Homo sapiens: one gene and its partners. The main gene of each other region encodes a partner of the protein of the gene in region 4 in a complex. Each region holds a gene or a part of one and is shown on either strand. Other genes may lie near its edges.

Region 1 (7,026 bases), on a different chromosome or scaffold from region 4:
CTTAGAACAGTACTTATCACATGGAAATTGTTCAGTCACTGTTAGGCCATGCATCAATGGCAGCATGATAAAATAGTCAAAGTGTGGCCAGGCATGGTGGCTCACACCTGTAATCCCAGCACTTTGGGAGGCCGAGGTGGGAGGATCACTGGAGGTCAGGGGTTCGAGACCAGTCTGGCCACCATGGTGAAACCCCATCGCTACAAAAGTACAAAAATTAGCTAGGCATGATGGTGGGTGTCTGTAATCCCAGCTACTCGAGAGGCTGAGACAGAAGAAACACTTGAACCCAGGAGGCGGAGGTTGCAGTGAGCTGAGATCATGCCATTGCACTTCAGCCTGGGCGAGAAAGTGAGACTCCATCTCAAAAAAAAAGAAAAGTGTGAATGTTGGCCTTTCCATACAAACAGTGCCAGGCTGAGGTTGCCTGACCCTTGTCAGGTCTTGGGAACAGGTGTCCCTCTGCTATAGAGGTAAATATGATATGTCAGTGATTTTAGCTTATCACTATTAAATATTTCACCTGTACGATTGACAGCTGTTCTTTTGCTTCCGTGTTCACCATAAATCTGCTGATGATTTGGCTGCCATGTCCCTAACGGAGAGAATGTGTTAGCCTGAGGACTTGACGTTCCCATACCCTTGGCAATTATATTTCTAGTAAATTAATAAACTGGCATCCTTGGTTATAATTTGATTTTCTCTGTGAGTGTGAGAATGTGCTTACCCTAGGATATGAAAATATGGTACCATTGGTGACTACATTTCTGATTAAAAATGATGAAACCGGCCACTGCGGTGGCTCACGCCTGTAATCCCAGCACTTTGGGAGGCTGAGATGGGTGGATCACCTGAGGTCAGGAGTTCAAGACCAGCCTGGCCAACATGGTGAAACCCTGTCTCTACTAAAAATACAAAAATATTAGCCGGGCGTGGCAGCGGGCGCCTGTAATCCCAGCTACTCGGGAGGCTGAGGCAGGAGAATTGCTTGAACAGAGGCGGAGGTTGCAGTGAGCTGAGATCGTGCCACTGCACTCCAGCCTGGGCAATCAGAGCAAAACTCCATCTCAAAAAAAAAAAAGAAAAGATGAAACTAGCCAGGCGCAGTGGCTTATGCCTGTAATCCTAGCACTTTGGGAGGCCAAGGTGGATGGATCACCTGAGGTCAGGAGTTCGAGACCAGCCTGGCCAAAATGGCAAAACCCCATCTCTACTAAAAATACAAAAATTATCCCGGCATGGTGGCACATGCCTGTAATCCCAGCTACTCAGGAGGCTGAGGCAGGAGAATTGCCTGAACCCAGGAGGCGGAGGTTACAGTGAGCTGAGATCATGCCACTGCACACTCCACCCTGGGCAACCCTCCGTCTCAAAAAACAAAAACAACAACAACAAAAAAACATGATGAAATTGGCATTAAGTGTTAATAATGAATCGTATGAGCTTGGTTAAAGGGAGCGCATCCTTGAGAACTGGTACTGGAGTTGGTGAACACTATTGGATTTCAGCCCTGAGGCTGAGGACTAGAACACCAGACTGTGCCTTGTTTACCAAAGTGCTGTCACCTTGCCACGTCTTGCGAGACAGACTGTCATTCTCTCAAAATATCCCTGCCCCACAACACTGGCCGTGGAGTGTTGTAGCCCACTGTATATTAGGAGAATCTTTTGGAGGGATAGTTTGAGAAAATGTGTTAAAATTATAAAATCTTTTTTTTTTAATTATAAAAAAAATAAAGGCAGGGTGTCACTATGTTGCTCAGGCTGGTCTTGAACTCCTGAGCTCAAGTGATCCTCCTGCCTCAGCCTCCTAAAATGCTAGGATTACAGGCACGAGCCACCATCCCTGGCCAAATTCATAAAATCTTTTTCTATCATTTGACCCAGTAATTCTCCCTAGGGGGAAAAAAAAAACTCTTCTGAAGAAATAATTCAAATTATGGGAAAAGCTGTATGCATGAAGATACGCATTTTAGCATTTTTTTAATTTAAAATCTTAATTTGCCAAATCACTTTTCACCTGAGACTCAGCATTACTTGTAATCACTGAAAATTACAAGCAACCCATAATCCAGCAATAGAGAAGTAATTATGTAAATCATTGTAGGTCAGTTTAATTAAATAACACAGCTACTAAAAAGGATAAAGACCTGTAATCCCAGCACTTTGGGAGGCCGAGGCAGGTGGATCACCTGAGATCAGGAGTTCGAGACCAGCCTGACCAACATGGCGAAACTCACATCTCTACTAGAAATACAAAATTAGCTGGGCGTGGTGGTGCATGCCTGTAGTCCCAGCTACTCAAGAGGCTGAGGCCAGAGAATCACTTGAACACGGGAGGTGGAGTTGCAGTGAGCTGAGGTTGCAGTGAGCCGAGATCGCACATCGCACTCCAGCCTGGGCAACAAGAGCGAAGTGAAATTCCGTCTCGGAAAAAAAAAAAGGGAAAAAGATTGGGTCAGGTGCAGTAGCTCATGGGTGTAATTCCAGCATTTTGGGAGGCCGAGGCAGGTGGATCAATTGAGGTCAGGAGTTTGAGACCAGCCTGGCCAACATGACAAAACCCCATCTCTACTAAAGATACAAAAATTAGCTGGATGTGGTGGCGGGCACCTGTAGTCCCAGCTACTCTAGAGGCTGAGGCAGCAGCATCGCTTGAACCCAGGAGGCAGAGGTTGTAGTGAGCCGAGATCTTGCCACTGTGCCCCAGCGTGGGTGACAGTGACTCCATCTCAAAAAAAAAAAAAAGATTAAAAATGTAACAGTGTGGGAAAATGTTGATAATTAATATAGAGTGAAAAAATTCAGCACATAAAATACTTAGGTTTATATTTAAACTAAGATTATGACTATAATTTGTATATTCTAATTTGTGTATTTGTAATCTTAATATACAAATTATAAGGCACCACGCCTGGCTTTTCTTTTTCCTCCTCAGACATGAGGTCTCGCCGTTGCCCAGGCTGGTCTTGAACTCCTGGGCTCAGGTGATCCTCCCACCTTGACCTCCCAGAGTGCTGGGATTACAGGCATGAGCCACCACCCCTGGCCTAGAAAAATATTAAAATACCATTAAGGAATATTCAAAACTGGTTATTATATCAGGGTAGTAGAATAAGGGATTTTTTTTTTAATCTATTTTCCATTGCAGCTGGTTTTGATGGTTTTGAATCTGTTCTCTGGCATTCTGTCCTGCAGTTGCCACCAGCTGACCACTCTGCAATATAACTTCTTAAACTTGCAGCCAGGAGGAGCCCTAGGGCAGGGAAAGCTGCAGACTAGCTGGCTTCCTGGCTGCTATCCAGGCAAGGATTTTGTTTTCTCTATTACAGTCGATTATCCTAGACTTTAGGGAGCAATAGGTCTCTGGACTGTAGGTTTCAGCCTCCGTTCTGGGCTTATCTTTGGATTCTTGTTGATGAGTCAAAAAAAAAAAAAAAAAAAAGGAGTGACCATCAGATGTTTGCTAACTCTTCAAGTATGAGCTCAACCTTGTTATCTGCCTGGAGTCATTTCCTTTGAAAATGTATGGTAGACTTTGCCAAAGTAAGTAGTAATGTCCCATTCCTTCTCAGGAAAATGTGTACACATAGATCAAAACTATGCATTGTAAAACTCATATCTGTTTGAAAACATAGAGGTAGGGACAGAAAGTAAACATATGAAGGATTTGACAGGACACATTACCAGCCTGGTGGTCCTTTTTGGAAAATGTTTGCTTTCTCGTAATTGCCTTCAAAATAGGGACAGTGTCCTGAATGTTGGTTACAGTTGTTGAAGATTTCTTTTTGAGATTATGCTTGGATGATGGGGCCTTAAGAAGAGAACCCACCCAGTCCTATTTTGTGCCTTCGTTTGGACATGTTCTCCCTTTTCTTCCAAGGTACTATACACTTAATTAGTATTGGGTCTAGTAGGACTGAGATTTTGTTTTCCTTTTTTTTCCCTAGGGTTCTCAGAAGCGAGCTATCTCTACCCCAGAAACCCCCCTAACAAAAAGGAGTGTGTCAACTCGTAGCCCCCATCAGCTACTCTCACCGTCAAGTTTCTCTCCAAGGTATGGATCATAATTCATTCAAGTGCCATAAAGCTGGCCTCCCCTCCCCTTTCTCTGGCTATCTGAGGAAGGCTAACAGCAGAGTTATTAATTAACTATAGGTGGGCATGTACCTCTGCAGTGAATTGGCTTGAAAGCCTATTGCTCTCTGCCTTCCTTGCTCTCCTTTTCTTTGTGGAAAATTACTGTTTCTTACGGTAATTAAGGAAACTCACTTTCCACCCACTTTTCTAGGGCTCATTTCCTAGATCGGGAACTGATATCTTGTATTGAAAACAACCTGTCTATTCAGAAGTCTAAGAGTCTTAACAGGTCTTGTCAGTAGAGGCAAGTAGGTTTCCACCTGCTTCTGTTTGTGTTTTGTTGGGTTTCTTTTTCTTTCTTTTCATCTAAAGTTTTTTTTTTTAAAGAAAAGCACATATCTTTGTTCATAATGTTTCATAACCTGTTTATTGTTTCCAAGTCAGGTTAGAACTAGTTTCTGAGAGTTTTCTTGTCACTGTGACTCTGCCCTGACTTAATTGGTATTTTGTCCCTCTGCCACCATTGCACATAAATCCACAAAGATCATATGTAATTTTTTGAAATCCATAAATGACACGTCTCATATTAGAGAATTCCATAGGCAAGTGCTCTGCTGAGTAGATGGGTTTTTAGGAGTTTCCACATCAAGATGAGGCTCCGGAGCAGTAGTATTAACCCTTCAGGGAAACACCAACTGCCAGGAGTCATTACCTCTACTTTGGATCACTTCTAGATGAACCAGAGCTTAAGATTGTTCAACTCTATCACTTTTTTTTTTTTTTTTTTTGAGATGGACTCTCACTCTGTCACCCAGGCTGGAGTGCAGTGGCACCATCTTGGCTTACTGAAGCCTCTGCCTCCCGGTTCAAGCGATTCTCCTGCCTCAGCTTCCCGAGTAGCTGGGTCTACAGGCGCTCGCCACCATGCCTGGCTAATTTTTGTATTTTTAGTAGAGACGAGGTTTCGCCTGTTGGCCAGGCTGATCTTGCACTCCTGACCTCAGGTGATCCACCCGCCTTGGCCTCCCAAAGTGTAGGATGTCAAGCATGTGCCACTGCTCTCGGCCTTTTCAGCTCTATCACTTTAGAAAGGTGGTGATAGAAGCTCTGCAGTCATTCAAGGTGAGTGGTCATTGGATTTTTTTTTTCTTTTCTTTCTTTTTTTTTTTTTTTTAAGATAGGCTTTTACTCTGTTGCCCAGGCTGGAGTGCAGTGGCACAACTATAGCTCACTGTAGCCTTGGCCTTCCAGGCTCAGGTGATCCTCCTACCTCAGCCTCCTGAGTAGCTGGGACTACAGGTGTATGCTACCAAGCCCAGCTAATTTTTATAATTTTTGTAGAGATGGGGTTTTACCATGTTGCTCAAGCTGGTCTCGAACTCCTGGCCTCAAGCAATCTGCCTGCCTTAGCCTCCCAAAGTACTGGGATTACAGGCATGAGCCAGCATGCCTGGCAGTAATTGGATTTTGAAGGACAGTTTTACTTTAGGGTAGTCTACTGCTGCTTTGGGGAGTTCTCAGGCTTTTTGGAAGAAAGCTTTCTAGACTTAAGAGCATCTTTGCAACCTGGTATGTAGGGATGGTTCTTATAGACGTGCCAGCACCATTGCAGGAGTTATATTCTCCAAATGTCAATACAATGCTCTGAAACCTGTAGATCTGTTTACAACTGTCCTCATGTGAGCATCTTGCTGCATTAAAGGGCCTGCTGTAATGGATGGCTCATGGAGCTTCCCAGGGAAGAGCTTGGAGAAGCTGGCAAAATGCTGCCTAGTCATTTTTTAATGCACACTAATAAAGCTGACAGCAGAAACTGGTTTTGTAATGTATGAAAGTAACTTCTAAACTATTCACGTAGAGGTGGCACTGGAGATTGAGATAATTAATTGAGCTCATTTTCTGTAGGCTGTGAAAAGAAAGAATGATGGCATTAATTGCGATGGTGCCCCACATAAAACTGGTTCCCGCAGAGTTTCAGTGCATTAAACAAAGCCTGTTTTAAATAGACCTCTCTGTACGGCGTGTTTACAACCAGAGGATTAGAAGACCTCACTGTCATCTAAGCAGATCAGCAATATCCATGTGTTCTTAGAGGTATAATTTACCAGTCAGGGAGTGGAAATGTGAGAACTTGGCAGTTGAGCCTAGAAAAATGGGAATGTTTGCACATCACCAGACTGTTAATTCATTACTTACCCACCTCCATAGACACTGGGGAAAATTGATTAATTTGAATTTCATTTTATTGTTGTTTCTACCTTGAACCATATTGTGAGTTTTTATATATGCTCAGCAAGTTTTAGCTTATCCACAGTTGCAGGCTCAGATGATGTTCCAATAAATGCTAAAAATTCATGAGAAGAAAAAAATGGGACTTAAAGTTTGCCTTTTAATCAATTCAGAATCTGGGGATCTTTTTGCCTTGCTTAGTTTTAATGCCAAGAGAACGACAACTTTTTAAAATACGTTTCTGTCTCTAAACTTCTCTAAAAATGTTTGGTATTCCTCAGCCTGGTATTCCTCAGCCCTTCATTCCTGAAATTCCTTAAAGGTCTGGGTATGTCCAACCCCATTAAACTGATTCAATTTATAAACTATGAGGCCACCTTCCTTTTCTCCAGTCCCCATTTCCAAAGGTAACCTCATTTTATTCTTCTCTCCCTTTAGATATGAACACAGTAATATTAACCTGTTTTGCTTCCAATTAGTGCTACTCCCTCCCAGAAATACAACTCACGAAGTAACCGAGGAGAAGTGGTTACCTCCTTCGGCTTAGCACAGGGAGTATCTTGGTCTGGGAGAGGAGGAGCTGGAAACATCAGCCTGAAGGTCTTGGGATGTCCAGAGGCACTAACTGGGAGCTACAAATCCATGTTTCAGAAGCTCCCAGACATTCGAGAAGGTGATTGTTTTTCCCTTTGAAATTCTGGTGGATATAAAACCACCT
Region 2 (6,595 bases), on a different chromosome or scaffold from region 4:
CTCATTCAGCCACTTCACAAAAAATTATTTTATTCCATCTCTCAGTGATGATGACATGATTGCTTTTTGGTAATCATTTACCATTCTGATTTTATTTTTTGAAGTAAATTGTCTGAAGTAATAGGTTCTTGGAATTACAGCGTGCCTTGCTTTTTTCTTAGAACTTTATTTAAGCTTGTCTTCCAGCATTTAACCCGAGTCCCCTCTTTCGTTTGATCTTCTAACTTTATTTATACAACAGTGCTTAATGATCCTGCACAATGTGTTTCTTTTTTTTTTTTCCTTCTCTACAACCTCCCCCCCCACACCCACCCAAAAAAAAATTCTGTCCAGTATGGTTGACAGTACTTTTTATAACCTCAGCAAGGGGGCTGCATGGGCAATTTTCTTCCGACATGACAAATGCAAACACCCAAAACCCAACCCTGAGAGAATCACTTCATCCAGTTGAAAGGAAATTTTTTATCTCTTTCAAGGTGACTCTTTTGCCACTGAAACATGGTAAGGGGCACGACTCTTACCTTCTATTCTTGTCTATAGAAGTGGCATTCTTTACATTGCTTTATTCTGTCTCCTCCCTTCTCGCATCGGCCTCTGCTCTTCCCCAAACTTCCACTGAACAACCCTTCCTGGTAGTTGGGCCCCATGGCACCTCCATTTGCTTTGAGTGTGAAGGGTCACTGTTCACCACCACCAGGCTGCAGCAAGCCTGTGTTTATTGAACATGAACCAGACCAATGGTGGAGAGAATTATAATCACACTTCTAAATACTTGTCAGATCAGCCTACAGCCTAGTAGAGCACTTGAGCTAAACCATGGATATTTTATTCTTCTTGAAGGCTGTATTTTGGTATCAACATAAAAGAAGAAAAAAGAAAGAAAACTGAAGATAATTATTTCTAAGTAGGAATGGAACTGGATAGTGGACTAACAGACTCTTCAAGCCTTCAGAAATATTTTAGCATCTAAGATGTGATTTAATGGGTGAGAATGGTCCTCTAGGCATTGGCTAATTGATAGACACATTGATCACTGTGTGTGCCTGGCACTGTGCCTTGTGAATTTTTTTTTTCTAAATAAGAATTGACTCAAAGATTATTTCTTTTCATTTCTTACTTTGAGAAATGTTTATGTACTTGCCATTTGATTTGGGGCCCTAAATGTCTTTGAGTTTAAAATATGGATGTCACTTGAAATCTTTCAGGTACTGTGCATAGCCGGAAGCTCAGTTATATGGATCGATATTCAGGAAAAAGGCAGGCCAGAGGCTCCAGCAGCTCTCTGTAGGTCGGATGGCTCTACGTGTAGAGAGCGTAGAGGGGTGCAGTTTTCTTTCAAATTTTTCTAAAGCTTCCTGCATTCCACCCCTTACTGCAAAGCTCACGTTGCATTGAGGGAGGGAGGCTATGGATTGGAAAAGGTGGGAGAACTGAGAACTGTATGGTGGGAAGCCATGCAATTAAAAAACTGACTGAAATTATTACCTGATTTCATAATTGACAGAATATTTAATTCAGATATAGTAAATTGACACACCTCTACACAGAGACAATTATGACTGACTGTATAACACCTGACAGAATCAATTATAACTGACTGTTGTTTGATACCTTTGTACAGAAATAAATGAAACAGACATTCAGAACAGAGACGGCTGCTGCCTGTGTGCCTAAGCCTGCCTTAATTAAAAGAAAATAACCAGTAGGCGATGTTAAAATGTCTTTGCCTCGTGGTTTCTAGTTCAGTGTGTTTCTTTAAGTCCAAAAAGGGTTTTATAAAGAGTAAAGTTGAAAAGAGATTTTTGGTTTACTGACATGGAACTAAAATATGTGAAGTAGAGTTAGTTTCCTTAGATGGGAGAATACTCCATTATTTTAATAGAGCTAGCATTTTATTTGATCAGTTGACTTTTATATAAAATATTTAAGAAAGGTCAACCTACAGATGATGGTCTAGTTCATCCCATATAGAAAAGAATGTAACTTTCATTATTTTGAGGTTTTAGATTCTAATCAATAGAAATCAACTTTTAAATGAGCAGTTCATTTTGTAGTCTGATAAAATATTTTGTGAATAATTAGTATCTAGGCTACCCTTTTTTTCCATCGTTTTCATAGGGGTTAGGGACAGAATATTTTTGGTAATTAACATATAACCACAGGGAATCAGAGCATGTAGAAAGGATCAGAGTAAATAAGCTTTATATACACGTTCCTCGAATGTTATTCTCAAGAAAAGTTTAAAAAGGAGATTAGCTTTGCTGATGTATTAAGATGAGTGATTTCTGGGTGATACTTCAAGCCATTAGAGTATATTTCAGTGACGCACTTGTGTGTAGGAAGAGCATTTCCTCCCCGATCTCGACAAAGGTTGGCTTTGTGGTGCTGGTGGCGGAGACAGCAGTTACCAGGGCCAGTGGCATCTCTGTGGACAGGGATGGGATGGCTGCGGATCTTCTCTGGCTCTTGCCTAATGGCATGTTGGAATCTTTTAACAGTTGTTATTGGGCACCTGACCTGCAGCACCTGAGGTGATGGCGTCGTTACTGATAGGCTGACTCTCAAAATCAAAGCAGGAAAAGGAATCAGGGTTTTACTGGCCACATTAACTGGCCTCCACCAGTTAACACCTGTATTTTCCCTTGAGTTCTAAAGTGGTGGATATAGTATTGACAGAAACAGGGTAACAGTTTAATGTGAGGCCTAACGTGGGTGGCCCAGGTGCCTAAAGGGGGAAGAGAAAAACCAGGAAGGGGTGACTCCTTCCCCCCACCAGCCCCTGTCCCTGACGCAGCCTGTGACAGCTAGTCCAGTTCTGTTTCCTAGAAGACCTTCCATATGTTATTGATTAAATTCTCTTTGGGGAAGCAAGTGGGAGCTTTTATCTGCATCTCTAACTGGCGTGGAATGGTGCCTTGGCCGTATTGACTGGCTATGGGATATGCTGGCGGTCACAGTTGTCTTTTAGGAGGAAGAGCACCGAGTGACGCTGGTTGTCATTCTAACTCTGCTGTGTGGCAGCGTAAATAGTCCCCTTTCTAACCAACCTGGTGGGAAAAGTCAATATCCCATCAGCAGAGGAGGTAAACACATCAGGAGCTATGTCCTCTCTTTTCCTCCCCTGCTCCGTATTACCGCAGCTCTTTAAATGTGCTCTCCCCAGTCATCAGATGCATTTGTGTCATTCACATGCACGGGGTTGCTGGCCTGTGGCTCTGGCCTGCCGGGAGGCAGCCGACACTGGTTGGGGCCATTGTTGTTTATTCCCAGACTCAGATCATTAGAACTTTCAAATTGTCTTTCTGTTGCAGCCCCCCTCTCTTTTTCCACCCCTTTTGGGCATTTTAATTCTCTATAAAACCTGTGGTTGTTCTTTAAAGGACAACTTATGTAATTCAGAAAAGGTTGTGGAGAGCAAATGCGAATGTATAGCCAAGAAACAAAAATCTGGAGTCTGAGTTTTCGTTTTCCGGGTGTTTTGTAGACTTCCCGTGTTGCTGTTGTTGGAGGTTTGCTTTCTGTGAGTGGCGCGCTCTCCCCTCCGTGTTTCCTTCCTGACCGGTTCCTATCGGGAGGTGCTGGGCAGCCTTGCTGCTCCCAGGCCCTTTGGCACAGGCCAGCATCTTATGGGGGCGGAGGCCTCACCTCAGGATCAGCTGATGTCTGAGGCCTGCAAATTTCTATGTGGGAGTAGTGATGTAGTGGCAGGGGGAGTGGGCAGAAGTGAGCCTCTCCTCAGGTGCGGGCTGGGGGTTCTGGCTACCTGGGTTTGCGTGTCTACAACTCTGATTACCTGCTGTGTAACCTTGGGTAAGTGACTTAACCTCCCAGTTTCCTCAGCCATCAAATGGGGATTGGGGGTGGGGGGGGCGCGGGGAAAGCAGCCTCTCCAGACACCTTACCAGGTTCCTGAACACAGCGTCATCCCCCACGTGATCACTCTCTTCACCCAAAAGATCAGACCTGAGCATCACAGCCCCACTGCTCCTTTAAAAGAACAACATGTAGGGCCGGGCGCAGTGGCTCACGCCTGGAATCCCAGCACTTTGGGAGGCCAAGGCAGGAGAATCACTTGAACCCGGGAGGCGGAGGTTGCGGTGAGCCGAGATCGCGCCACTGCACTCCAGACTGGGCAACAAGAGCAAACCTCTGTCTCAAAAAAAAAAAAAGAAAGAAAAAAAACAACATGTAGAAGTAGCAGGCTCTGGGAAGGGAAAGGAGAGGGGTCTTTTCTCTGGCTGGTAGCATCCTGCTCAGAAGGGAAAGGCCAGGGATGAATGGGTTAAAGGAGCAGGAGTGCCGCATACCCTGAGTTCACACAGTGTGGACAAAGAAGAGCAAAGAAATCTTGGCCATGGACAGACAGGTGCCCTCGGGGCCGCTCACCTCTCGCCTCTTTCAGCAAAGGAAATTTTGTTTAGCAGAGGGACTTGGGCTGGAGGGACTAGAAAATGCTTACTAGGCCCAGCTGATCTGGGGAGTTGGGGCTGGAAGGCACCAGAGGCCATAGCTCCCTTTGAGACTAGGTGTTTCCTGCCACGTCCAGACTTCGCAAGCAGTTGCATGCATGTGCTCGCAGCGCCGGTGAAAGTGGCGTCTGCGAGTAGAGCTCACCTTGTCTGCTGCACATGAGGGTGCACCTGCAGTTCACATCAGTAGAGGGTGGCCCTGTCCCCCAGTGCACTGAGTCAGCTAGGTGCTGAGAGGCGGACAGACAGGGGAAAGGAAGAAAAGCTTTCACAGAGGAATGGTCGGCGGGGGCTGCATCTGACTGGCCCCAGGGGTAGACCAGAGATAAGATGGTGGAGATACAAATGGAATCAGCATCCCCTTCTCTGGTGGAATACTGAATGTTCTTTAAAGAAACTACCTGAGACTTCTAATCTCTCTCTCTCTCTTTTTAGATAAATTGAAGAAGCAATTTTTTACCCCCAAAGTTCTGCAGGACTACAGAAAACTCAAGAACACAGCAGAGCAATTCTTGTCCCGAAGTGGCTACTCCGAAGTGAATCTGAGCAAACTCTTCGCTGGTTGTGCCGTGAAATCCTAAGGGAATCCCAGGAGTAACCAAGGAGGGGGTAGTTGAAAAATCCCAGCTTCCTCTGTGCCTCCACTCTGGCCCTAAATGCTCCTCCAGCATCTGTTTCTCCCTTGGGACTGTGTCTCATGTTTGTGTGAATGTAGACCAGGAAAGGGGGCTGCAAAAATGTTGAGTCTAATGTTCGTAAGCATCATAGAAATTCCTGTCTTCATATTAAGATGTACTGCTTTAAAACACAACTCCAGAGCCCCTCCCCAAGCTCCCCTCCCCAAGCTCCTGAAGACCCGGTTTCTGAGGGAGGGAAATTGCTACTTGGATTGAGAGTAGCTGGAATGTAAGTGACCCCAGGCTTTGCCTCAGGGCCTTTAGCCTATGTCCCCCCCACATAAAGAGAGCTTCTCAGAGCCTGACTGAAGAGCTGACGTTTTGCTTTTTCATATGCCAATTAAACCCGGTCTAAATCCAAATGCTTCTCCAGCCATCCAGGAGTGGCTGTCCTTTTCAGTCTTGTCTTTTATATAGGTAGCTGAGGGGGAAGATTTAGAAGCCTTGCACTCACTAAATAGATTAAACAGAGCAGGCTTGTTTGTTGAATTGCTCCAAAGTCCAACAGACACACACTGAGCAGGTGTTTTACACTCACATTCCCTTTTTGCCCCTTAAATAGAAAGTGCAGGTAAAGGTTTATACAACAAGAAAGCACATTGAAAATAATTTGATACTCTAACAATCCATTAACATGTGTAGGGGTTACGGTGAGGATCACTGTGTTGTATTCAGAAAAACGGGGAGAGGGATGCTTAATTGGCCCTGGCGCTTGCTATTTTTTTCTCATTTCTTCACAATAGGACCGTCTTTGGCAGCAGCAAAATGTATTTCAGTATGGCAGTCTTTCCTCTCTTACATTATTGGTAAGATTATACTAACAAAATGTTTCCCCTTGTACAATTATGCTGTGTTTTTAAAAAACATTGACCTGTGTGTTTTTATAAAAGAAAAAGTATGTTGTGCCTTCTTCTTAAGAATAAAGTTTTCTAAAGGGAAAGCAGTTGTGGTGAATCCTTACCAGGTGCAAAGAGTTGACTAGAGAGGCAGCAAGGAGTAAAATGTGAGTAGAGCCAGTTGCTGTGGCACACACCTGTAGTCCTGGCTACTCGGGAGGTGGAGGCAGGAGGATGGCTTGAGCCCAGGAGTTCAAAGCAGACTGGGCAACATAGTGAGGCCCCCACCTCTAAATACATACACACGTACATACATATACATATACATATACATATACATATACATATACATACACACACACATATATATATATACACACACATATATATACACATATATATATATATGACTAGAGGCCATCCCCTTTTCAAACCTCAGCCCAGTTTCTTCATAGCCACCTCTATCAGAACCCAGCTCAGGAGTGCACAGCATGATATTTGGTCGAATGTTCTGAGAAGCATTCAGAATTTCTGTGACTTTAGGTCATTTAAGAGATGAAGTATGGTTTCTTACGTGCTTTGCTGACTTAGAGAGCCAAGCCAAGAGCCCAGC
Region 3 (7,319 bases), on a different chromosome or scaffold from region 4:
GTGCCTAATATAATATCTTTCCCACAAGTGACACTCAATACATAAATGCATAGAAACTGAAGGAACTTTTTTTTCCTTTTTTACTTACTCTGTAGGAAAACTTGAGCTTCCGAAGCTCACTCTCCAACTTACTCTGGTATTGTTCAGTTCCTTTCACATAGCTCACTCCAAGATTTTCAACTGATTTTAACACTAAAAAAAAGAAAAAAGGTATAAATGCAAGATAATGTTTTAAAACTAAATCCAAGACAAAATCTATGGAGGGCAATTCCATAATTACTTGTTTACAGAACATGACAGGTAATTGCCAGTTTATTTCCTGTAACGACATCATATAAACTACATATGCTTATAAGAGGATAATGTCCATCTATGTGCAGAAAATATCCATGTCCCACAGCATAATTTAATACCAGGGATTCTCAATCAGGGAAGAGGGATGGATGGTGAATAATCATTCCTGAGGAACAGAAAAGTATGTCAGTATGGAAAAAAAAACTAGGCACTCCTTGTTTGCATCCTTCGTATGGGAGCTGCCTGTTAGGCAGTAGGCATCATTTACTTGGCATAGATTCAACAGAAAAAAAGCATCCCTTCCTTTCCTGATGAAGCCGAGGACAGAGCACAACAGTGAAGAAGAAAGGCCATCCAAACAGCCAAATGAACCATCCTGAACAGATGCTACATACTGTTCAAAGGTTCCTAAAGCACCATATCAATCTTTCCTCAGATGAATTATTCTCTGGAGGCATTTTTGAAGTCAAGAATGAAGAACTTCTAATTGTCTCCTGAACATAAACCCCATGTCCCACAGGTATGGGTATCCAAATTAATTATCCTCCCCTCATTCCTACTCTTCGTCCTGCCATGCCCATCTCCAGCAGCAGAGTTTCCATGCATCAGATCATCCAAGCAGGAACTGCAGCCACTCCACACCTGCTCCCTCACTCCTCATATCCAGTCACCAAATCCTATCAATGCTAACTCCTCAGTATCCCTTAACTCTCTCCCTTCCTACCACTGCCATTGTCATTATCATAGTTCAGGCCCTTATCATTTCACCTCAAGTGCCAAACCCAAGGGACACTTTTCAATCACCATCTTAATCCCTATGAAGTATTGACACTGCTAAGCTTTCTAAAACCCTTTTCTCCCTTGTCTTCATTCTTTCATTCAACACACAGGCACTGAGTGCCTCCTCTCTGTATTAGCAGTGCTTACCCTGCTCCTCTAAGAATGATTAACAGTATCTCACCTTTCCTTCTGATTTCCCCACAGGGATATCCTGGAACATAAACTCTGAAGACAACGCTAGTGTTTCTGTTTCAATTCATGTCTAGCCCATTCTTTTCTCTAGCAACACACTGAGGATTAAGTAGGCCCCCAGGACGGTGGCCACATCCTTCTTACACCCCAATATCATATCATTAGCATGGCACAAAATGCCCTCCATACTTCTCCATCCACCCTGAATTCCTGAACTTGTTACTGTTAGCTCAAATATGAAATTCTCTTTCATGCTCCAAGCCTTTGCATAGGCCATTATCTCAGCTTGGAAAAACTCTTCACTTCTTCTCTGCTGGAAAATTTCTACTCATTCTTCAGTATGTCCAGATCACATTTCAACTTCTCTAAGAAGCTCATTTAATAAGACTAAGTCAGTCACTCCCACTTCTTTGTTTCAACAGCACTACCATTTACTTCTACTAGAGCAGTTAAAATACTGAATTATGACTATTATTTTGGATGTCTGTCTCCATGTACTAGAATAAAACTTCAACAAAAAATAACATTATTCATCTCAAAATCCCTGCCACCTAGAACATAATGGCACTCAATAATATGCATTGTACAATAAATAAATGAATGAGTACCAAACCCTCAACAAATATTTGTTGAATGGATTGCTGAATGAAGGATATGAATTACCTCAATAAATACTTGTTGAATGGATTGCTGAATGAAGGAAATGAATTACCTTCATTCATTCTCACAAAGGGTAAGTGAGCTTCTCAAGAATATATACATTCTAATTTAAATAGTACTTACATTTAACTCTATCAATAGCCAAGTTTTCAAATTCTATTAAAGATATGTTTTCAGAAGGTGGCTGCAAGTAAAACTGAAGGCAATGAGGGTAGGAAGCATTCCTCTGGTCACCTGCCAACCTCAGCTTCCTCCACTTTCTTCCAGAAAACTCCATCTTGGTCACCTTAGAAGGAAGTACACAAAAAGCGTAAAATGATGGAAAACAAAGTTGGGGGAAAAAAAAGAAAAAACACGAAAAAATAATTCCACAAACACAGAAAAAAAATGGATTTGAGGGCATGCACAAAATGTTAGCAGTGGCAATTCCTGGGTGATGTCCTTCTCTCGTTTCCAGATTTTCTACAATACACCTATAATAATTTTGTAATGGGGGTGGGAGAGGCGCTAGAGCAGATGCAGGTGGTGATCCTAATTTTCAGCAACATGAAAGTCAGGTGATGTTGCCTGCTCATTATAGGCCTGTGTGTCACTGTTCTTGGATCTTTACGATCCCAAGAGTTAACATAAGGTTTTACGTGGTCTGCAATCCTGAACTTAGAGGAAAGTGCTGTAGGTTCTGGCTAAATGAGGGTCTTACTTGATGGACTGGGTCCAGTTACTCACTTCCTCTGTTATGACTCTGGGAAACAGAGCAACTGTCTTTCGGAACTCCTTTTCGGGAGCATCCACAAGTGCCTTACAAAAGTTCCATCCCCAACACCCCTCCTCACTCCACTGGCAAACCTATCTCTCCCCAACTCCTCCCTGGTACCTGGGTGTCTGCCCCAAACAACCAACCCGCCAAGTCTGTCCTTCTGCTACTGCTGCCTGCAAAGTGATCCATCTCTCCTTTCTCTCGACTTGCAAGCCTTAATAACAGGATTGCTCTCTGTCCTAAATTCGCGGAAGTTTCCCCTACCTGCAAGAATTCAAACTCGGGAAAACACAAACGGTGGCAGCCACTGTTCCCGGGTGGCGGGAGAGTTCATATGAAACCGGAAGAGGAAGTGACTAGCACAGAAGGCCAGCCCTGCCCCACCTCCCCTTGGCGGGTAGGAGGGGGTTTGGCCTGAGGCTCTGGGCATGCTCAGTGGAGCGCGTCTGGGAATTCAAGGTGTTCCGTCCACCTTGGCAGCTTTAAAGTGTTTGGATGTCAGTGTTTTGGGGATTTTTTTTCCAAATTTTAAGATGCATTTCCTGTATGTGGAGTCGGTAGCTTTAACGGTTGAAACTGGGGTGCTGAATGCTAGTGGCGAAAACTCCCACACGCCGAAAATTGAACCAATGTAACTTCGTCTGGGGACACTAACAAATATTCCCTATATTGAGGAAAATATGGCGCTTTAACCCTCAGGGCTGGCACTCATCACTTTCAATCTGGGGAGGAATGAGGAAAAAAGGCATTAGGATCTTTTTTGCACCTAGCTCACTATTAGGGGCTCTTTTTTTTCCGCTCGTTTAATCTTTCAGCGACCTATAAGGTCCTATAAGATCGTATTACCCCCATTTGGCAGATGAGAAAACAAGTTACAAGATCCTCGTTAGTTTGCCCGTCTACATACAATACATATTTTGAATTTCGTATTGGGCGGCAAGCCCCTACTGGCAGGTTCCACGTTCAATTCGCTCCCCGCTCTCCGGCAATGCCTCGCACAGAGGAAGCGCGCAGCTGAATTATCTGTGGAATGAACTAGAATGAATGAAAGAAGGCACATTCGCAGGAATCGCTCTGCAATCTACAGGAATTAGAAGAACCCAGCCTCGGAGGGAAGGTAGGGTGGAAGAAGATGAAGCACTGGAAATCACGCGGACGTGCCGCTTACTTTCCAGATGTCCGACTGCAGACTCACAAGCGGGGCGTCAGAGCCACCACACCAGTTCTCCGCTGTCTGTAAGATTTTCGAGAACTGGAAATTAACTTCACTCGTGGCCTCTAGGAGGCGTGCCTCGCTTACAAATGTGCTGGAATGAGGCTCCGGTATAGGTAGTCCTTAGGAGATCAAATGAATGCTTTGAAATGTTCACGTTTTTAGAAATGCAAAGTACATTGAAACAATATCAAGCTTCAAAGCATCTACCCAGCCTGGACTAAACTGTGGCTGGCACTGACTTTATATCAGGACCTGTTCTAAGTGGTTTACATATCAACTCATTTTATTATCATAACCACATAAGATAGGTTATTCCCCCCGACCCACCACCAATACCCGAGACAGAGTCTTGTTCTGTCGCCCAGGCTGGAGTGCAGTGGAGCGATCTTGGCTCACTGCAACCTCCGCCTCCGGGATTCAAGCGATTCTCCTGCCTCAGCCTCCCAAATAGCTGGGATTACAGGCGCCTGGCTAATTTTTGTATTTTTAGTAAAGATGGGGTTTCACCATGTTGGCAAGCTGGTCTCGAACTCCTGACCTCGTGATCCGCCCACCTCGGCCTCCCAAAGGTTATTATATTAAACGTATTTTCTAGATACGGAAACTGAAGAACAGAGAAGTTAAATGAAGTCAAAAGGACACAAAATGTCAGAGCCATGTTCAAACCCAGAGAAACTCTCCAGGCCCCACTGTGCTAACGATCTCACTACACCAATTCCAGTAATATGACAGCAGAGCTTCACCTCATTTCTTCCTCTCTGTATTAAATACATAATACAAATACGTAATACAAATACATCACGTGGTCCAAAGAAGACACCTGAAAGCATATAAACTGCCTGAAAAAACCTGCATCACAGACCATAAGAATATTTACATGAATATCTTATCTCTGGATAGCAAACAAATTTAAATATTATAAATTACAAAGAAAAAAGATATAAAGACTTGACCATAAAAAGTATAAAATTATGCATGTAAAAAATTCACAGAAGTATTTTGCACTCATCAAACTAGAGAAAGGTCTACCAAAAGTATAACATCGAAAAGGTTAATGCCATCAGGATACAAAGAAGTTAACTCATTAGGAAAAAAATCCTAAGACACAAACAGAAAAATAGGACAAGAAGAAGAAGAGGTAACTCATAGAAAAAATAACTACTGTTAAATATGAAAAATGTTTTTATCACTAGAGGCAAAGAAATTTTCTCCTGCAAAATTGTCAAGGATTTTATAATGAAACTACTCAGTGTTGCCACCTGTTTTGCTCCTCATTTAAACCCCTGAGGCTCTTCATGACTCCCATATGGTGTAGTTCTTTAAATAATTATAGCCCTCTACTACAGAAGTTCTTTATCTTTTGGAAGATCAAGATTAAGAACTTCTGTAGTAGAGGGATGTTAATTAGGTCTATGAACCACTGGACAATGTGATGAAAGCTCTCTTCAGAAAAATGCACCTACACACACATCTATACTATTTCAAGAGGTTCAAGATCACCATATGTGGCTAGTTAAGAATTCCAGCACTACTAGGTTTTAAGCTTTCTTTGGATGAGCCCTTTTGTTCATCTCTGTGATCCCCAAAGTACTTCCTACAATATCTGCCCAATTAAAAGACGAAGTAGCCAGTGTCATTTCATGACCAGCTCAGAGAAAACTGGAAATATATGTTCATGCTTAACATACCAATATCTTACTATGTCACATAATAGCTGCCTTTTCATCATATTAAAAACTGATTTTAAGCCCCGGGGAACAAAATACCCTGTGTTGGTCAGCTATTCCAGCATTTTTATTGTTTCCTAATGCCACAGTTTTGGTCACTACCTCACTGTGAAGGGTGTTTTTCTGAATCCAGAGGCAATTGCAATATAAATCCGCATATCACGGTAGCAATAATGCACAATAATGTTATACATTTCAGCAGCCATGTTCAGTAAATCACTGTGAGCTCTTTCATGTATTCACTTCATCTACAAAAAATTGATTGACACAATGCTCAGCCCTGGCAACCAAGATTCTTGTAAATACAGACATTGACCTCACAATCATGGGAAGGAAAACATACATAAACATGTAAGTTTTACTTCCACTGAACCATAGCATCTCAAAAACAGGGATGACTGTTTCATTCATTTCTGTGACCCCAGTGCCTGGCACTCCATGGGCCCTCAATAAATACTTATGAAACTGAATTGTTTTTGTTTTTTCTTTGGTTTTGTTTTGTTTTTTGAGACGAAGTCTCGCTCTGTTGCCCAGGCTGGAGTGCAGTAGCATGATCTCGGCTCATTGCAACCTCCAACTCCTGGGTTCAGGCAATTCTCCTACCTCAGCCTCCCGAGTAGCTGGGATTACAGGCGCCTGCCACCATGCCCAGCTATTTTTTTGCTTTTTTAGTAGAGACGGGGTTTCACCACGTTGGCCAGGCTGGTCTCAGACTCCTGACCTCAGGTGATCCACCTGCCTCGGCCTCCCTAAGTGCTGGGATTATAGGCGTGAGCCACTGCGCCCAGCCCATACTGAATTGTTGAATACTGTGAGAGACATATGAAAAAAAATGCTGGGTTCAGCTTCCCATTAAACAGATGGTTTGAATCAAATGTGACTCCAACCTATAAAACTTCAAGTCCTCATCTGAAAACATTATACACATTCCTTCCAGAATGAGTTGGCTTCCTAGTTTAGCCTGTAATAAAGCACAGAGTACCTTCTCTGGCAGAATTTCCATGAATCATCACTGCTCAATTCAGTGCCTGCCTTGGGCATTACCCAGCTACAGACAGACTGCCCCACGTGGCATTCACCCTGAGATAACTCCTCCACAGCTCCAGAACTTCTATCCCAAAAAGTGTCACACTTACAGCTGAGAATTTAGTTGCCATGCTTGGTAAATCTAAGTGAGTGTTCATTCCTCTTCTGAGCGGGGTGTGTCGCCCTGAAAACCAAAGGCGTGGTAAGCTTCTTTACTGAGTAAGCATGCTGTAAATTCTAGGTCCTACCAGCTGTGTTTGCCATGAAAAGCAGAGAACATGAGGTATTTCCAGCAAGATAGCTGACCCATAAAAGCTAATGCAGAGTTAGCCAACCTCTGGCCCTCCACCCTCCCCATTTCACTGCCTACCTCTCGGAGTTGGCTGGGAAACAACCTAAAGAAAGCACTTCATTCTCTCTCCATTTGCTTTAGATTGCTTTATTAGTCAAAATCAAGGAGCAGGAGAACTGACAGAAAGCACATTCTTAATGGTAGCACGGTGAAGAAACACTACCCTTCCATATATCAGCATTATTTGGTGTGTTCCAGAAATAGTAATTAAACACTTACTAAGTGCCAGGCAACATTTTCTATGCTGGGGATATGAGAATGATGAGAGAGCCAAAAAATCCTGCTCTTATAAATCTTCTAATGGGGAAGAGAGAC
Region 4 (7,026 bases):
TTGATCTCTTGACCTCGTGATCCACCTGCCTCAGTCTCCCAAAGTGCTGGGATTACAGGCGTGAGCCACCGTGCCCGGCCCCATGTCTTATTTTTGAGACACTGTCTTGCTTTTTTGCCCAGGCTAGAATGCAGTGGTGCAATTGCAGCTCACTGCAGCTTTGACTTCCCTGGCTTAAATGATCCTCCCACCTCAGCCTCCCAAGTAGCTGGGATCACAGGGAGTGCCACCACAGCTGGCTAATTTTTTATTTTTAGTAGAGACAAGGTCTTGTGTTGCTCAGGCTCTGGTCACGCCCTTTTGGAGATTATTAGAAGTTTTTACATTGAGTATTCTTGTTTTTTTTTTTTTGAGATGGAGTCTTGCTCTGTCTCCCAGGCTGGAGTGCAGTGGGGCAATCTCGGCTTATTGCAACCTCCACCTCCTGGGTTCAAGCGATTCTTCTGCCTCAGCCTCCCGAGTAGCTAGGATTATAGGCGCCCGCCACGACGCCCAGATAATTTTTGTATTTTTAGTAAAGATGGGGTTTCGCCATGTTGGCCAGGCTGGTCTTGAACTCCTGACCTCAGGTGATCCACCCGCCTCAGGCTCCCAAAGTGCTGGGCCTACAGGCATCAGCCACTACGCCTGGCCTGCATTAAGTATTCTTTGATTTATAAAATAGTTTAAAAAATGTATACAACAAAAAATTTAATATAGGCAGGGTGCGGTGGCTCATGCCTATAATCCCAGCACTTTGGGAGGCCGAGGCAGGTGGATTACGTGAGGTCGTGAGTTCGAGACCAGCCTGACCAACATGGAGAAACCCTGTCTCTAGTAAAAATACAAAAATTAGCTGGACGTCGTGGCGGGCACCTGTAACTCCAGCTACTCAGGAGGCTGAGGCAGGAGAATTGCTTGAACCCAGGAGGCGGAGGTTGCAATGAGCTGAGATTGCACCATTGCACACCAGCCTGGGTGACAGAGTAAGACTCTTTCTCTAAAAAAAAAAAAAAAAAAAAAAAAAAAAAGAATATACAATTTTATTCATCCATTTAATTATATAACCTATAATGATACCCAATGGGAAAATATGATTGAGAATAAGAAAGGAGTTTCACATAAAATTTGGATTTTAGTAGTATCCTACGTTTGCATGGAATTAAGAATCCTCATAATAGTTCTTTAAAAAGAGTAAGAAAGAAATTATACTTTTTTTTTTTTTGAGACGAAGTCTCACTCTGTTTCCCAGGCTGGAGTGCAGTGGCGCAACTTCAGCTCCCTGCAACCTCTGCCTCCCGGGCTCAAGTGATTCTTGTGCCTCAGCCTCCTGAATAGCTGGGACTACAGGTGTGCACCACCATGCCTGGCTAATTTTTGTATTTTTAGTAGAGACGGGGTTTAACCGTGTTGGCCAGGCTGGTCCCAAACTCCTGACCTCAGGTGATCCACCCACCTTGACCTCCCAGAGTGCTGGGATTACAGGCGTGAGCTACTGCGCCCGGCCACATAATTTTCATTTTGAGACAAGGTCTCTCTCTGACACCCAGGCTGGAGTACAGTGGTGTGGTCAAGGCTTACTGCAGCCTTAACCTCCTGGGCTCAAACAGCCTCTTGAGTAGCTGAGACCACAGGTGCCTGCCAGCATGTCTAGCTAAATTTTTTTTTTTGGAGAGACAGGGTCTCTCTGTGTTGCCCAGGGTGGTCTCAAACTCCTAGGCTCCTCTTGCCTCGGCCTCCCAAAGTGCTGGGATTACAGGTGTGAGGTGAGCAGTAAGCGAGCATTACCGCCTGAGCTCTGCCTTATGTTAGATCAGCAGAAGCACTAAATTCTCAAAGGAGCATGAACCCTATTGTGAACTGCGCATGTGAGGGATCTAGGTTGCGCACTCCTTATCAGAATCTAATGCCTGATGATCTGAGGTAAAAAAGTTTCATCCTGGAACCATCCCCAACTCCTCCCCCTCTCTTTGCAGTCCGTGCAAAAATTGTCTTCCACAAAACTGGTACCTGATGCCAAAAAGGTTGGGGAGTGCTGCGCTGCTATGCGGCATCTTTTTTTTTTTTTTTGAGACGGAGTTTTGCTCTTGTTGCCCAGGCTGGAGTGCAATGGCGTGATCTTGGCTCACCGCAACCTCCACCTCCTGAGTTCAAGCGATTCTCCTGCCTCTGCCTTCCGAGCAGCTGGGATTACAGGCATGTGCCACCACAGCCGGCTAATTCTGTATTTTTAGGATAGACAGGGTTTCTCCATGTTGGTCAGGCCGGTCTCGAACTCAGGACCTCAGGTGATCAACCCACCTGGGCCTCCCAAAGTGCTGGGATTACAGGTGTGAGCCATCGCGCCTGGCCTGCAGTATCTCTTAGGTGTTAGATTTGCCTTCCATTAGCAGGAAGATTTAGAAATTCCTTAGCTTCTTCAAATTCTTTTTTTTTGTTTGTTTATTTGAGACAGTCTCCCTCTGCCGCCCAGGCTGGAGTGCAGTGGCACAATCTTGGCTCACTGCAACCCCTGCCTCCTGGGTTCAAGCGATTCTCCTGACTCAGCTTCCCGAGTAGCTGGGATTACAGGTGCCCTCCACCATGCCTGGTTGATTTTTGTATATTTAGCAGAGTTGGGGTTTCACCATGTTGGCCAGGCTGGTCTTGAACTCCTGACCTCAAGTGATTTGCCTGCCTCGGCCTCCCAAAGAGCCGGGATTACAGGCGTGAGCCACTGCGCCCAGCCAGCTTCTTCAAATTCTTGAATATACAACTTGGTAAACAGTTTAGACATATGTTTACCATAAAACCCACCTATATGCATCAGAAACAAAGAAAAAAAGTACTGCATATATAATAGTTGTTAAATAAATAGGTGGTGAATCTCAGAGACTGATTATTCATACTTATTGATAGTTTAATCTTACAGTATAGATCCTAGCATTAAAAGTTACTTAGGAAATATGTGTTGAATCAGACTGGATTCAATAACACCACTTGGGCTGCTGTTGAAGAAAGGACACAAACATTGTATGCAGTTCCAGGACAAATGCTGATCCATTCTAGTTGAATCAGAGAATTAATTACTGGAGTGACAGATGGATATCTATATAAAAACCCTGTATTTAAAGTGAAGCTTCAAAATATTACCTTACCTCTGGTTCTATGTTTGACATCAGATTCAGCTTCATTCTCCTCTTTTTCCTCTTCATTAGTGGAAATGGCATCCAATTCACGGCAGATGAAGCTGCAAGTAACAGAACAAGAGAATTTTGTTTTTGTTTTTGTTTTTGAGACGGAGTCTTGCTCTGTTGCCAGGCCGGAGTGTGGTGGTGCGATCTTGGCTCACTGCAACCTCCGCCTCCCAGGTTCAAGTGATTCTTCTGCCTCAGCCTCCCAAGTAGCTGGGACTACAGGCATATGCCACCAAGCGCAGCTAATTTTTGTATTTTTAGTAGAGACAGGGTTTCACCATGTTGGCCAGGATGGTCTCGATCTCTTGACCTTGTGATCCACGCGCTTTGCCCTCCCAAAGTGTTGGGATTACAGGCATGAGCCACCGCGCCTCACCACGAACAAGAGAAGTTTAATGTTGGTTTCTGATCAGCATTATCCAGTGTATAATAGCATGTGAATCCCATAAAATTTACTGTAAAAAAATTATGCGGCCAGCTAAATTTGGGATATTCTAAACACCATGATCTCTTCTTGGAGTTTTTCATGCATATTATCATATGAAAGACTGTGAAATACTGTAGTAAAAGATACTTTTAATCTGTTTAAGTCAGAATTTCCTAAATTTACTTGACCTTAAAATCTTTTTCTTACATAACAGCAGGTGAAAATCTTGTATTGTTCTATTAGGGCATCGTCATCTAACCTTTGAACCTTATTTGGTTTCCATAACCAAATATACCATTCCCATGCAACTACTTCTCTAAGGAGGCTAATTCAATTTATTTAAAATTCATAACAACAATTACAAACAAGGAGTGATCAATGATCTGAAACATACCTTATGGTCGGAACAGTAAATGGATCAAACTGGTCCACTTTCTGCAAATCAATAGGCACAGATATGCGACCTGTAAGACACAAAAGTTATAAACTGATGATTGTGGACTATAAATCATTATAGTCATCTCCTACAGGTTATTTTTGGTTAAAATTTTTATTTAAGGCTTAGACAAAGGGTTAAACTTATCTGTTAAGAAGAGTATTTAGAAATATAAATTACTTTCACATTAGCTGTGCCCTTACTCTTTTTTAGAGTTAATGCCTCACTTTGTCACCCATGCTAGAGTACATACAGTAGCATGGTCATAGCTCACTGCAGGCTTGATGTCCTGGGCTCAAGTGATCCTCCCACCTCAGTTGTCTCCCAAAGTGCTAGGATTATAGACGTGAGCTACTGCTCCTGGCCTGGCCAGTTTTTCAATTTTTGTTGAGTTGGGGTCTCACTATGTTGCCCAGAACTCCTGGCCTCAAACAATCCTCTTGCCTCAGCCTCCTGAGTTGCTGGGATTACAGGTGTGAATGACCATGTCCAGCATGCCTTTTATTTCTCTTTAAAAAACCAGCCAGGTGCAGTGGCTCACGCCTGTAATCCCAGCACTCTGGGAGGCTGAGGAGGGTGGATCACAAGGTCAGGAGTTCAAGACCAGCCTGGCCAAGATGGTGAAACCCCGTCTCTACTAAAAATACAAAAATTAGCTGGGTGTGGTGGCGGGTACCTGTAATCCCAGCTACTTGGGAGGGTGAGGCAGAGAATTGCTTGAACCTGGAAGGCAGAGGCTGCAGTGAGCCAAGATCGCGCCACTGTACTCCAGCCTGGGTGACAGAGTGGGACTCTGTCTCGAAAAAAAAGGAAAGAAAAAAAACAAAAACAAAAACCAATAAGCAAATGTGAAGACTGTTGAGCTATTTCCCAGTTGCTCTTATCCCTACTTTTATTTCTATATTTAGAAATAAAGTATATTTAAATATTCCATATTTAAGTTCAGAACAATCTCAGAGTTAGTGAGTCCTGAAAATAGAACAAAATAGATGAAACTATAATATTTACATTGGCTTGGTTTATTTGAGATCAATACAGATACCCACATGTCAGACACCTTTAAAAAGCATTTAGGAAATAAAATAGAAATTCCTCTACTCTTTTATAATACCCCCCTAGGATACCATATAGAATTTAACACATCTCAAAAGTGACGTAATGAGGCTGGGCGCAGTGGCTCTTGTCTGTAATCCCAGCACTTTGGGAGACTGGGGCAGGTGAATTGCTTGAGCTCAAGAGTTCAAGACCAACCTGGGCAACATGGCAAAACCCTGTCTACAAAATATTAGCTGGCTGTGGTAGCACATGCCTGTAGTACCAGCTACTCAGGAGGGTGAGGCAGAAGGATCGCTTGAGCCGATCGGTGAGCCGAGATTGCACCAGTGCACTCCAGCCTGGGTGACAGAGTGAGACTCTTTCTCGAAAAAAATTTTTTTTTGTTTTTGTCAGTGCTAGGAGTAGAGTTCATTTCATTTCTTTCTTTTTTTCTTTTTTTTGAGACAGGGTCTCACTCTGTTGCCCAGGCTGGAGTGCAGTGGCACCATCACAGCTCACTGCAGCCTCAACTTCCCAGGCTCAAGTGATCCTCCTGCCTCAGCCTCTTGAGTAGCTGGAACTACAGGCATGCACCACCACGTCTAGCTAATTTTTGTATTTTTTGTACAAAGGGTGTTTAGACATGTGGCCTAGGCTGGTGTTAGACTCTGGGGCTCAAGTGATTTGCCCACCTTGCCCTCCTCAAGTGCTGGGATTACAGGAGCAAGCTACCACATACAGTCACACACAATTTTTTTTTTATGACCTTGGATGGGTTACATCTTGGGCCACTGTTTTCTCATCTGTACAATGAGAGCTGTTGTCCTAAGATTTTGATGGTCCTCTCCAAATCTAATATGGAACCTCAGAAACCCAACTGAAAAACAGTTACATAGTAGAAACTCATCTGGTAGCTACTTAACTGACTTAGGTATTGGGTGACAGAGCAATTCTTCTACCTTTAAATCATAGACATTATATATATTCAGACCTAATGCCATGCTTACTAAAGCCAATAGCAACTCATTTTTCTTTTAGTTTTCCTTAGTTTCCTTGTGTAGTACCTGTTTTAGGATGAACACTAAAAGGGCTCTTCAGTAGATGATTGATTCCTTTGCTGACATTGATATCCAGCCGTGGAAAACAGTACTGGAGCATAATCTCCCACTCCAGCCAGGGTCCATATTTGTCATTTTTGATGTTATTCTAAAAGCAGATACAAGGCCAACATGAGGATCAGTAGGAACTGTTGAAGATTTCTTTAAAGAAAGTTAAAAAAACGATCTTCAACCATCTTTAACTGACTAGGCAAAGCAATCAATTTAATTAAGAATTGCATTATTATATCTGTAATACAGATTTCAGTGGCATATACCTGATATCTGCTGGCTACTTTCTTCAAGTGCTCCCAACGCTGAAGTGAATTGTGAGACTTTTGGAAGCTTTGTTGAAGTTCATCATGAATTGGTGATGGGTCATTAAGGAACAGACTCATTTAGGGAACATCAATGAACAATTTAGTTTTAAGTATGTATTACCACAAGGGTGTCTTACAAATATTCAGAAAGTAGTTATTAACATTTCTTGAAATATAAATGTTGACTGGGCGTGGTGGCTCATGCCTGTACTCCCAGCACTTTGGGAGGCAGAGGTGGGTGGATCACGTGAGGTCAGGAGATCGAGACCAGCCTGGCCAACATGGTGAAACCCCATCTCTACTAAAAATAGAAAAATCAGCAGGGCATGGTGGTGCACATCTGTAATCCTAGCTACTCTGGAGGCTGAGGCAGGAAAATTGCTTAAATCTGCAAGGTGAAGGTTGCAGTGAGCTGAGATTGTGCCACTGTGCTACAGCCTGGGCAACAGAGTGAGACTCCATCTCAACAACAAAACAACCCACCCCACAAATGTTAAACTCAACAGCTGTATCCGGCCGGGCACAGTGGCTCATGCCTGTATTCCCAATATTTTGG

The links.
Region 1: PRIM1 (region 4) and POLA2 share a complex: the UniProt entries of both Homo sapiens proteins name them as parts of the alpha DNA polymerase complex.
Region 2: the proteins of PRIM1 (region 4) and POLA1 are in contact, whole or in part, in a cryo-EM structure (PDB 7OPL), measured with the Homo sapiens proteins. Residues at the interface, in NP_000937.1 of Homo sapiens: Asn92, Thr93, Val94, Lys95, Leu96, Gly97, Ala98; in NP_058633.2 of Homo sapiens: Tyr439, Ala440, Pro447, Glu448, Lys449, Ser450, Phe876, Thr877, Thr878, Gln880, Leu906.
Region 3: the proteins of PRIM1 (region 4) and PRIM2 are in contact, whole or in part, in a crystal structure (PDB 5EXR), measured with the Homo sapiens proteins. Residues at the interface, in NP_000937.1 of Homo sapiens: Lys147, Glu148, Asp149, Phe150, Gly151, Phe152, Ala180, Val181, Gly184, Ile185, Glu187, Tyr188, Ser190, Leu191, Lys193, Lys207, Ile208, His209, Pro210, Ile212, Arg213; in NP_000938.2 of Homo sapiens: Glu165, Ala168, Ser169, Pro171, Ser172, Phe188, Ala189, Leu192, Phe195, Arg196, Gly197, Arg198, Val200, Tyr201, Leu202, Glu203, Asp204, Gly205, Phe206.

The regions. Positions count from the first base shown.
Region 1 is NC_000011.10:65,271,943-65,278,968, forward strand, and holds part of POLA2 (DNA polymerase alpha subunit B), read left to right. Parts: intron 1-3,949; coding exon 3,950-4,056; intron 4,057-6,787; coding exon 6,788-6,981; intron 6,982-7,026. UniProt on the Homo sapiens protein: Accessory subunit of the DNA polymerase alpha complex (also known as the alpha DNA polymerase-primase complex) which plays an essential role in the initiation of DNA synthesis.
Region 2 is NC_000023.11:24,990,901-24,997,495, forward strand, and holds the end of POLA1 (DNA polymerase alpha catalytic subunit), read left to right. Parts: intron 1-4,904; coding exon 4,905-5,050; 3' UTR 5,051-6,086; downstream 6,087-6,595. UniProt on the Homo sapiens protein: Catalytic subunit of the DNA polymerase alpha complex (also known as the alpha DNA polymerase-primase complex) which plays an essential role in the initiation of DNA synthesis.
Region 3 is NC_000006.12:57,313,330-57,320,648, reverse strand, and holds the start of PRIM2 (DNA primase large subunit), read right to left. Parts: upstream 3,020-7,319; 5' UTR 2,948-3,019; intron 2,213-2,947; 5' UTR 2,204-2,212; coding exon 2,050-2,203; intron 193-2,049; coding exon 89-192; intron 1-88. UniProt on the Homo sapiens protein: Regulatory subunit of the DNA primase complex and component of the DNA polymerase alpha complex (also known as the alpha DNA polymerase-primase complex) which play an essential role in the initiation of DNA synthesis.
Region 4 is NC_000012.12:56,735,318-56,742,343, forward strand, and holds part of PRIM1 (DNA primase small subunit), read right to left. Parts: intron 6,521-7,026; coding exon 6,429-6,520; intron 6,260-6,428; coding exon 6,118-6,259; intron 4,047-6,117; coding exon 3,977-4,046; intron 3,209-3,976; coding exon 3,117-3,208; intron 1-3,116. UniProt on the Homo sapiens protein: Catalytic subunit of the DNA primase complex and component of the DNA polymerase alpha complex (also known as the alpha DNA polymerase-primase complex - primosome/replisome) which play an essential role in the initiation of DNA synthesis.